2 separate regions of the Homo sapiens genome follow, and region 1 is linked to region 2. Evidence: fine-mapped expression QTL. A gene starts in region 2. The other region holds a variant in brackets. All regions are shown on one strand. Distances are from middle to middle. Region 1 has its middle 26 kb from the start of CDCA7. Region 2 holds the start of CDCA7 (cell division cycle associated 7).

Evidence for each region. PIP is the estimated chance that this variant, and not a neighbour inherited with it, causes the effect.
Region 1: its variant is the best candidate, but not a certain one, in a credible set for the expression of CDCA7 in monocytes (CEDAR, PIP 0.55).

What each region holds. Positions count from the first base shown.
Region 1 is chr2:173,325,802-173,331,183 of GRCh38, forward strand. No RefSeq gene overlaps it. Among named protein-coding and RNA genes, the nearest start is that of CDCA7, 26 kb to the right of the region's middle. The variant T/C (reference allele first, on the strand shown) is at 3,328.
Region 2 is chr2:173,352,904-173,358,285 of GRCh38, forward strand. CDCA7 (cell division cycle associated 7) reads left to right here and starts at 1,969. Exons shown (of 10, transcript NM_031942.5): 1 at 1,969-2,081. The coding sequence starts at 2,061. RefSeq lists enhancers at 1,013-1,968, 1,271-1,360 and a silencer at 1,911-2,180.

The DNA of each region.
Region 1 (5,382 bases), 27 kb before region 2:
CTACACCATTTCTGAAGCAGAATCTCACAAGTTTTTTTCCTTCTTATGATATTGATTTAATTTGTCTTTGCAAAAATAAAATTGGGCTGTTTTATGGGCAGAATCTTTACTTTAGGCTTTAATAGACAACTGTTCAGTGTTTTTATGCTTAGCCTTAATTTTAAATTAAACTTTTTATATTGAGGAAATTATAGATTTATGTGTAATTGTAACAAGTAATAGAGGTCCCATGTACCCTTTACCCAGTTTTCCCCAGTGGTAACATTTTGCAAAACTATTCACAACCAGGATATTGACATTGATACAGTGAAGACAAAGAATATTTCCATCACCACAAGGATGTGTCATGTTGCCTTTTTATAACCATGTCCACTTTCCTGCTGCCTCTATGCCTTCCTTAACTCCTGGCAACCACTAGTCTCATCTCAATTTCTATAATATTTCCATTTCAAGAATATTATAGGGTCAGGCATGGTGGCCTACACCTGTAATCCGAGCACTTTGGGAGTCTGAGGTGGGAGGATTGTTGACACCAGAAGTTCAAGACCAGCCCAGGCAACATAGTGAGACCCTATCTCTACAAAAAATATAAAATTAACCAGGCATGGTGGTGCACATCTGTAGTCTCAGTTACTTGGGGGTTGAGGCAGGAAGACTGCTTGAGCCCAGGAGGTCAAGGCTGAAGTGAACCATGATCACACCACCACACTCCAGCCTGGGCGATAGAATGACACCCTGTCTGAAAATAACAACAGCAAAAAGAATGTTACATAAATGAAATGATACAGCACGTAACCTTTTGGAATTGGTTTTTTTTCACTCAATATAATTCTCGTAATGCATTATTGTATGTATCAGTAGTTTGTTCCTTTTCATTTCTGAGTAGTATTCCAAGGTATGGATGTATCATGGTTTGTTTAACCATTCATCTATTGAGAGATATTTGAGGGCATTTTTTCCTTCAATTTTTGACTATTAGGAATAAAGCTGCTATGAAAACTCATGTACAGGTTTTTGTGTGAACACAAGTTTGCAATTCTCTGTTTTTCTCTTGGTTTTTCTCTTAAGGCCATTTTCTTTTCTTTTTTTTTTTTTTTGCAATGGCTTCCCCTTTGAAAGCATACTTTTGCTGTTTGCTGTTTTTTGGGCAGCCAGTCTCTTCTAATGGGTCTGGTGAGATTTATTGCAGGGAAATCTCTGTGACTAAGTCATATGGTAGTGTCATGCTTTGTTTCTTAGGAAACTGTTAAAATGTTTTCCAGAGTAGCTGTCTCATTTTCTATGCCTATCAGCAATGTATAAGTGATCCAGTTTCTCTACATCCTCACCAGCATTTGGCAGTGTTGCTATTTTTAATTTTAACCGTTATGATAGGTGTGTAGTGATATCTCATTGTGGTTTTAATGTACATTTCCCTAATAGCTAATGATACCAAAGATCTTTTCATGTGCTTACTTACTATCTGTACATCTTGTTTTTTGTGGAGTGTCTCTTCATGTGTTGCACTTGTTCTGATTGGATTGTTTACTTTTTTTTTTTTTTTTTGAGACAAGGTCTCACTCTGTTGCCCACGCTGGACTACAGTGGCATGATCTCAGCTCACTGCAACATCTGCCTCCCAGGCTCAAGCAATCCTCTTACCTTGAAGCAGAAGATGCAAGAAGAAAAAAAACAAACTTTCTTCCTTTCCTGTGGTATGAACAGTTTCCCCCTTGAATCCCTCCCCACCCCGTGCAATTGTATCCTGCACTGCAAGTTTTGAGCAAGCTTGAGAAAGCTTAGACTGTAGCCATCTGGGTGCCATAGGGAAGGACACGAGATAAGATTATGCGGGCATCTTCAGCAAGCCTAGATAACAGCCACCTGGCCCGCATAGCAAGAATCACATGAAAGCCTGAGTTATGAGCCTGTTGCTGTTTAATAAACTGCCTTTATTCTGCTTCTATAAACCTGCTTTCGCACCACTGCATTTTGCACCACTGATGCATGTATAAAAGTCAAGCCAAGTCTTTGTTTGGGGCTCAGCCTTTTGGATGCAAATCTGCTGTGCCAGTGCACCTAAATAGAATCCTCCTGTTCCACCCATTGGTTTCTTCAGTTCCTTGGTTCCTGCAACAACCTCAGCCTTCTGAGTAGCTGCGACTACAGGCACAGTCCACCATACCCGGATAATTTTTATATTTTTTGTAGAGATGGGGTTTCACCATATTGCCCAGGCTGGTCTCGAACTCCTGAGCTTAAGTGAGCTACCTCTCTAGGCCTCTGAAAGTGCTGAGATTATAGGCATGAGCCACCATGCCCAGATGGATTGTTTACTTTGTCACTGTTGAGTTTTGAGAGCTCTTTATACTTTCTAGATACTAGCCCTTTCTCTGATATGCAACTTGCAAATACTTTCTTGCAAACTGTAGCTTGTCTTTTCAAACTTATAACAGGATCTTTAGCAGTGTGTAATGGTTTTAATTTTGATGAAGTCAAATTTATCAATTTTTCTTTTATGAATTATGATTTAATGTCAAGTCTAAGAACTCTCTACCTAGCTTAGGTCCTGAAGATTTTCTCCTATGTTTATTTCTAAAAGTTTTATAGTTTTACATTTTACAGTCAAATTCATAATCCATTTGGAGGTCATTTTTGTATAAAGTATGAAAAGTGGGTTGAGGTTCATTTTTTTTTTTTTTTTGCCTATGGATGCACAATTCTCCAGCACTGCTTGTTGAAAAGGCTATCTTTCCTTTATTGAATTGCTTTTGCAGCTTTGTCAAATATCAGTTAGGTATATTTGTGGTGGTCTATTTTGGGGTTCTCAACAGAAATTCCACTGATGTATGTGTCTATCCCTTCACCATACCACACTCTGATTCTGATTACTATAGCTATATGGTAAGTTTTAAAATTGGATAGACCAATTTCTCTCCATTTATTCTTTTTGTTTGTTTGTTTTTGAGACAGAGTCTTGCTGTTTCTCTCAGGCTGGAGTACAGTGGCTGTGATCTCGGTTTACTGCAACCTCTACCTCCCAGGTTCCAGCGATTCACCTGACTCAGCCTCCAAACAAGCTGGGATTACAGACATGCCACCACATCTGGCTAATTTTCTGTGTTTTTAGTAGAGATGGGGTTTTACCATTTTGGCCAGGCTGGTCTTGAATTCCTGTCCTCAAGTGACCCACTCGCCTCAGCTTCCCAAAGTGCTGGGCTTATAGGCTTGAGCCACCAGGCCCAGCCCCATTTATTCTTTTTAAAAATTGTTTTAGCTACTCTACTTTCCTTCCTTCCCTCCCTCCCTTCCTTCCTTCCTTCCTTCCCTCCCTCCCTTCCTTCCTTC[T/C]TTCCTTCCCTCCCTCCCTCCTTCCTTCCTTTTTTTTTTTGTTTTGATACAGAGTCTCCTTCTGTCACCCAGGCTGGAGTACAGTGGTGTGATCTCAGCTCACTGCAACCTCTGCCTCCCAGGTTCAAGCGATTCTCCTGCCTCAGTCTCCTGAGTAGCTGGGACTACAGGCGTGTGCCAGCACGCCAGGCTAATTTTGTATTTTTAGTAGAGGCAGGGTTTCACTATGTTGCCCAGGCTGGTCTTGGCACCTGACCTCATGTGATCTACCTGACTTGGCCTCCCAAAGTGCTGGGATTACCAGCTTAAGCAACCGCACCTCGCCTGCTTTTTATTTTCTATACCTTCAAAAACTTTGCTGGTATTTGGCTAGGAATTGTATTAAACTGTATATCAATTTGAGAACTGATATCTTTAGTGTATCAGATCTCTAACTCAATAACACAGTATTTCATTTGTTTATATATTTTTAAATTTCTCTCAACAACATTGTGTGGTTTTCAACATGTAAGTCCTGTACACATTTTGTTAGATTTACACCTATTTCTTTTTTATTGGTACTATTGTGAATGATAATGTATTTTTATTTATTTATTTTTAGGAGTCAGGGTCTCATTCTTTCGCCCAAGCTGGAGAGAGATGGTGTGATTATAGCTCACTGCAGCCTTGAACTCAGGTGATCCTGCCACCTCAGCCTCCCAGTGTGCTGGGATTACAGGCATGAGCCACCACACTGGCCAGTAATGTATTTTTCATTTCAATGTCCATGTGCTCATTGTTAATATATAGAAATACAATTGATTTTTTATATTAACTTGTTTCCTGCAATCTTGCCATAAATATTCATTCTAGAAAGGTTTTGGGGTTTTTTTGTAGATTTCTTGAGACTTTATACATAAATAATCATGTCATCTGCAAATAGAAACAATTTTATTTCTCCCTTTTTGAACTGTATGGCTTTTATTTCTTTTTCTTGCCTTATTGCACTGGCTAGACTTCCAGTACTGTATTAAATAGAAGTAATTAGAATGAAGAATGGACAACCTTGCCTTTTCCCAACTGTACAGAGTAGGATTCAGTCTTTTACCATTAGGTGAAGTGCTAGCTGTGGGTTTTCTGTAGATGGTCTTTATCAAGTTAGAAAGTTTCCCTCTTTGAATATTGGTCTGTAGTTTGCTGGGTTTTGTATTGTCTTTTTCTGCTTTTGGCATTATAGTAATACTTATCAAATAAGTTGGGAGGTGTCTCTTCCTTTTCTATTTTCTGGAAGTGATTGTATAGAATTGGTGTTAATTCTTCTTTAATTTTTTGGTAGAATTTCTCTAAACTATCCAGGCCTGGTTATGACTTTTGGGGAAAATTTTAAAATTACATCTTCAATTTTATTAATAGTTATAGAACTATTCAAACTATTGATTTCGTGTTTGGTGAGCTGTGGCAATTTGTGTTTTTTGATAAATTGGTCCACTTTATCTAAGTTGCCAAATTTTTGTCTGGCAGGTTTGTTAATAGTATTTCCTTATTTTCCTTGTGTTGTCTGCAGAGTCTGTAGTAATATCCCCTGCTTCACTCATGATATTGGCCATTGTGTATTCTCTTTTTTCTTTGTCAGTCTAAAAAGAGATTTGTCAATTTTATTGATCTTTTTGAAGACCCAGCTCTTCCTTTCATTGATTTCCTTTATTGGTTTCCTGTTTTAAATTTCATTGATCTATACTTGAATCATTGTTCTTTTCTTCTGGATATTTTTGGTTTTGTTTGCCCTTATTTCTCAGAGTTCTTGAGTTGGCAGCTTTTATTACTGATTTGATACTTATCCTCTTTCCTAATATATGCATTTAGGTTATTAATTTCCCTATCAACAGGGAGTGTCTGGCACATTTTAATATGTTGTATTTTTATTTTCATTAAGTATTGTGTATTTTCTAATTTCCCTTGGTACTTCCTTTTTAAGGATTATTTAGAAGTGTGTTGTTTAGTTTCCAAGTGTTGGAAGATTTTCCTCTTAGTTTTACGTTATTCATTTTTAGTTTGATTTCATCATGGTAAGAGAAC
Region 2 (5,382 bases):
CATTCCCAGGAGGTTAAGGCATTCTATGTTACAGGAAGAGGTAGGAGGTCAGCACACGACACAGGTCATAAAGACCTTGCTGATAAAACAGGCTGCAGTAAAGAAGCCAGCCAAAACCAAGATGGCGAGGAGAGTGACCTCTGGTTGTCTTCACTGCTACACTCCCACCAGCGCCATGACAGTTTACAAATGCCATGGCAACATCAGGAAGCTACCCTATATGGCCTAAAAAGGGGAGCCATGAATAATCCACCCCTTGTTTAGCATACAATCAAGAAATAACCATAAAAATGGGCAACCAGCAGCCCTCGGGCTGCTCTATCTACGGTGTAGCCATTCTTTTATTCCTTTACTTTCTTAATAAACTTGCTTTTTCACTTTACGGACTTGCCCTGAATTCTTTCTTGTGCAAGATCCAAGAACCCTCTCTTGGGGTCTAGATCGGGACCCCTTTCCAGTGACACTTGTTTTAATTTGCATTTTCCTGATTACTAAAAAGACGAATAGACCAGAGATCTTATCCTTAAAAAACACATACACCAAATTATTTTCTTGTGCTCCCAGGAAGACTAAAAATTTCCCTATCAGAACCTTTCACAGGCAAAGTGACTTAATCTTCCCCTGCTTCATGGATCTAGTAATTCCAAATTTTCATATATTTAGCTTTAGTGGCACAAAATTATATTCCCAAATGTTTATTCATTCAACAAATACTTACTGAGGGCCCTGTAATTCCGTAATTTCACCACCCACCGATAGCCTCTCCTCCTGGCACTCACCTTCTAGACCTTGAGCTCTTTGTCCCTTGCACAGTGGCAGAGTGATTACTGGGTAGGTATATTTAAGAAAGGCTGGAAGACTCCTTCCAATCCATTGTCCTCGGGCATTATTTACTTGCTCACAGTTTTTGTATTCAGTACACCAAGAGAGGAACACAGTATGTCCATGCACTCTCTTACTGCAAAGGAATTAATTATTCCCCAGAGAAAAGTTTTGAAATGAGGGGGAAATGCGAATGTTTTCATTTCAAGCGCTTGTTTTAAATGTTAAGAGTATAATTAGTGTCTTCTAAAGAAACTAAATTTACTTTTTCTTGTAGAAGCAAGTTTTGCTCTTCACGCACACAAAAAGCCTCGCTTTATTTCATTTTTTCGTTGTAATGCCAAGTTTGGTTAAAAGGGCAATGAAAAGTTTTCTCGTTCGCACTGACTCAGGGTAGTTCTCAATTCTGAAGACAGAGAAGATCATCAAGCCACAATTGTTCAATCTTTAGTTTCAATCCCCAACAGATAATCGTTAAAGGTTAACTATACTATAGACGTCTTCATCAAGCTGCTGCGGCTTTTCTTCTACTTTGAAAACCACAAGTAAACAAGTCGGCTTCCTGTGCTTTTTGGAAAGAAAGATCAGGATTTAACTCATTTTATTGCTTCAGATAATGGTGTGGTTCCCAGATAAGAGGTGCTACATCCAGGGGCGGTGAACTCGATTATGAAGGGTGGAGTTCGTGCTGGATTCTATGATTTTTTAAATCTTGTAAACCGCACGCAGCAATGAAAGTGCTAAACGCCATGGTGCGTGACCCGCGCCACCCTCACGCTGCTCTCCTTTACCCCCCAGACTCCACTTTTCCTCCGCCACCACGAAAATTCTTGCAAATCAGACAGCTAACCCCGGGGCAATACGAACCATTTTCGCGCCACTCGCTCAGGACCGCGCAGCTGCACAAGGAGAGTGGTCCCCGTAGCCCCTAAAGCCCCCCTTTCTCAAAGGGGATTTTAGGAGTGCCCAAGGCTATCCTTTGAGGTCAGAATATATAGGGGGGTCGTGTTTTTTCCAGGGGGCCACCTAGTCTTGCGCCATGTCTGGCCGTTACCACAGCTTGCAGGACCTGTGTCCCAACGCGGGAAAGACAGCCCGAGCCCCGCCCCTCCGGGCCCGGGTCGGCGCGCCCAGCCTGCCAGCCGCGCTGCTGCTGCTCCTCCTGCTGTGGGACCGCTGACCGCGCGGCTGCTCCGCTCTCCCCGCTCCAAGCGCCGATCTGGGCACCCGCCACCAGCATGGACGCTCGCCGCGTGCCGGTGAGGGCTGGGCGGGCGAACCCGAGGGGCGGGCGCGGTGGGTGCTGGACGCAGGCGGGCGCGGGCCGACCCTCTCCAACTCCGCAGCCTAGCGCTGCCTTAACTGGTGGCCTGCCTAGGCGTTGCCCGCTTGGGCAAGCCCCTGATTTTGTGCACCTGGGATAACTGAGGGCCATGGGGACGTTCCTGCGTGGCGTGCGCACCCGAAGTGCGGGCGGCGTGGAGACTTGAGTCGTTTGCAGGATGGCTAGCAGCGCTGGAAAGCCCTAGGCACGTGCGTCCGCCAAAGGCCGGACAGCGGCCGGGAGCGCTGGCCGGTCCCGATTTTGCCTGCCAGGCAGAGCCAGCCTGCCTGCCCCCTGGGAGGTTGTCCCGCAGCGGCCCAGCCCTTTCCCGCACACAACTCGGAGCCAGTGCGTGGCTCGCCGCGTCTATACCCGCGCTCAGTGGGTGGCCCTTGGGCGCGCACCCCGCCCGGCAAGAGACGCGTCCGCTTCTAACCGCTGAGGGCCAGCGCGTCTGAGGTTTAAGGTCTTGCGAACCGGTCTCCTAGAACTTGGGCTGCGCACGCAGTGTGAAGCGACCGTAGTCCCGGGCGGTGGTTAAGTGCATTTAAAGGGCTTGGTGGGTCAAAGCGTTCGCCGACCATTTGCTCGTTTCCTACTTCCTCCACCCCAACCCCCAACCCCCCACCCCCCACCCCCCAGCCTTACTCTTAGCTGCAGGACGTTGCTCTGAGTGGAACGTTACTTTTTGCTCTAACGGAAGCCAGAACGTAGGGTCGGGCTCCTGGAGAGGGTAGAAGAGTGGGGGTTGGGTGAAACGGAAGACAATGACATGTTTAAAATAAATATCAGGGGTTAGGGACCCTCGCGGGGGTGGGTGCGATGGGGCGTGGTTTCAGAGCTGAGTCGCCGCCCCGGTGGAGCTGGGCATTGGCTTTCCGGATGAAGAAAACCATGTGTAGCTGGTCTTGGAACCTGACATGCCTGAGTTCAAATCTGAGCCACCATGGGACTTGAGTAATCCATTTCGCTTTCCTGAGCCTCAGTTTCCTCATTGGCTAAGTGAGAATAACGATAGCACCTTTGTTGCAAAGAATTAAACCTGACGTGAAAGTGTACTTAACATAGTGCCTGGCACGAAAAACGCCTACTATAAATGGTATTAGTTATTACTTACCTGCCAAAGAAGTTCATCTCCGTCTTGACTATTTGCCTTGCTGCTTTTTTGTGGCTTTTCCTCCAAAGATACGTTTGCCTGGTAAATAACTCTTGGCTTGTGCTGACTTGTTAAAGCTCAGCCTGTATTTCTCGGACAGCTTCCAATAGAATGCCGCCTTTGAGGCTGTCTGGGGCCTCTGACTGCTTGCAGGTAGATTGATGAGTAAAGGGTGGTAATTCCTGCAGTAATGCGATGAACACTGCTGCTTAAGAAGATGGCAGACTTGAGTTCTCCTTCCTGCCCCTGTGATCTTGCAGTCTATTACACCTTCCTGGGGCCTTGAATATCCTCATCTGGAAAATGGGATCTGAGATCCTTTTCAGCTCCCAACATTCATTGTGTCCCAGGCTGGAGTGCAGTGGCACAGTCACGGCTCACTGCAGCCTACCGGGCTCAAGCAGTCTTCCCACCTCAGCCTCCCAAGTAACTGGGATTACATGTACGCACCGCCACATCCGGCTGATTTTTGTGTTTTTAGTAGAGACGGGGTTTCACCATATTCCCCACGCTGGTCTCGAACTCGTGGGCTCAAGTGATCCTCCCACCTTGGCTTCCCAAAGCGCTGAGATTACAGGTGTGAGCCACCCCCCTACACATACACCTAACCTTTATATTTAGTAGCTCTACCTTTTACACGTTGTCCTGCCTTGTTAAGAGGGCAAAAGACAAAAACTTCCTAAGATGATTGAACGGAGTTTACTTAGGGGTATAGGGATGTTGGGAGTGCCATCATCATGAAAATAACTTTATCTGCAAGAGACTGAAATGCGTAATGTTAGGCCAAGAAGGAGGGCAAGAATGTTCTGGTCACCTGACATCTTACATCTTAGCATATTTTGTAGAATCTATACCAGAGCTTGCCCTTTCAAAGTTTTCAGTGTAAGGAATCACTTCTGCTATTCCATGGCCCCATTTAAGGAATAAAAACACAGGACCTAATGCAACACTTAGGAAATCTCGTTAAATATTAAGAAATGACAAACCACTATCCTTTTTTTATACAAGATAGATGCCAATTACATTTTCTGAGAGCAGTGCCAGGCTGTTCAGTATTTATGAATGAATGAAGCATTTCTATGTAAGTAATTTGCACTTTATAAAAGGACTTTTAAAAACTTAAGTCTTGTATAGCAAAGGGACAGCAACAAGAACTGAATGACAGCCTCAAGTAATAGAGTGCTAAAATGGAATCCGGTATCCCACCTGCATTTGGAGTGCTATTTGATCTTTAACTTGGCTCCTTGTACCATTTGTTGAAGCGTTTGATGTATTTGCTTTGTAAGGACTTCTGTGGAAATCACGATAGCCCTCTTGATTGGAAAGGGGCCTGCTTGGAAGCCTGCCATCTTGAAGTAGAGGTCCTGCCCAGTTTTTGTAGTTTGTGAAATTAGCATCACAGTACATAGCCCAAAGCTTACATAAAAATACCTCATTAGCTTGATTTTGGCTGAGGGAGAAAAATCTTTCTCCCCTTTTGTACTTTTGAAATTTCCTTTTAGAAGTACAGTTTAATTTTTTTAAAAAAACAGGTTGGATTTTAGGAGTTTAGCATTAAAATCTCCTGTGGGGCTCAGTATAATGCTAAGAGCTAAAGATTAGGGGCTCATAAAGGTGGGTTGAGAGGTAGCTCTACAGATGTTTGAATAAATTGATAAATGTCTTTACAATTTTCCTGCAAAGGGATCCCTTCTTAGAATTTGACCTGGTTTTGGCCGGGCGCGGTGGCTCACGCCTGTAATCCCAGCACTTTGGGAGGCCGAGGCAGGCAGATCACGAGGTCAGGAGATTGAGACCATTCTGGCTAACACGGTGAAACCCCGTCTCTACTAAAAATACAAAAAATTAACCGGGCGTGGTGGCGGGCGCCTGTAATCCCAGCTACTCTGGAGGCTGAGGCAGGAGAATGGCGTGAATCCATGAGGCGGAGCTTGCAGTGAGCCGAGATCGCGCCACTGCACTCCAGCCTGGGCGACACAGCGAGACTCCGTCTCAAAAAAAAAAAAAAAAAGAATTTGACCTGGTTTTAAAGATTTTTGGGTCCAGATACAGTAGCTAATGCCTGTAATCCAAGCCCTTT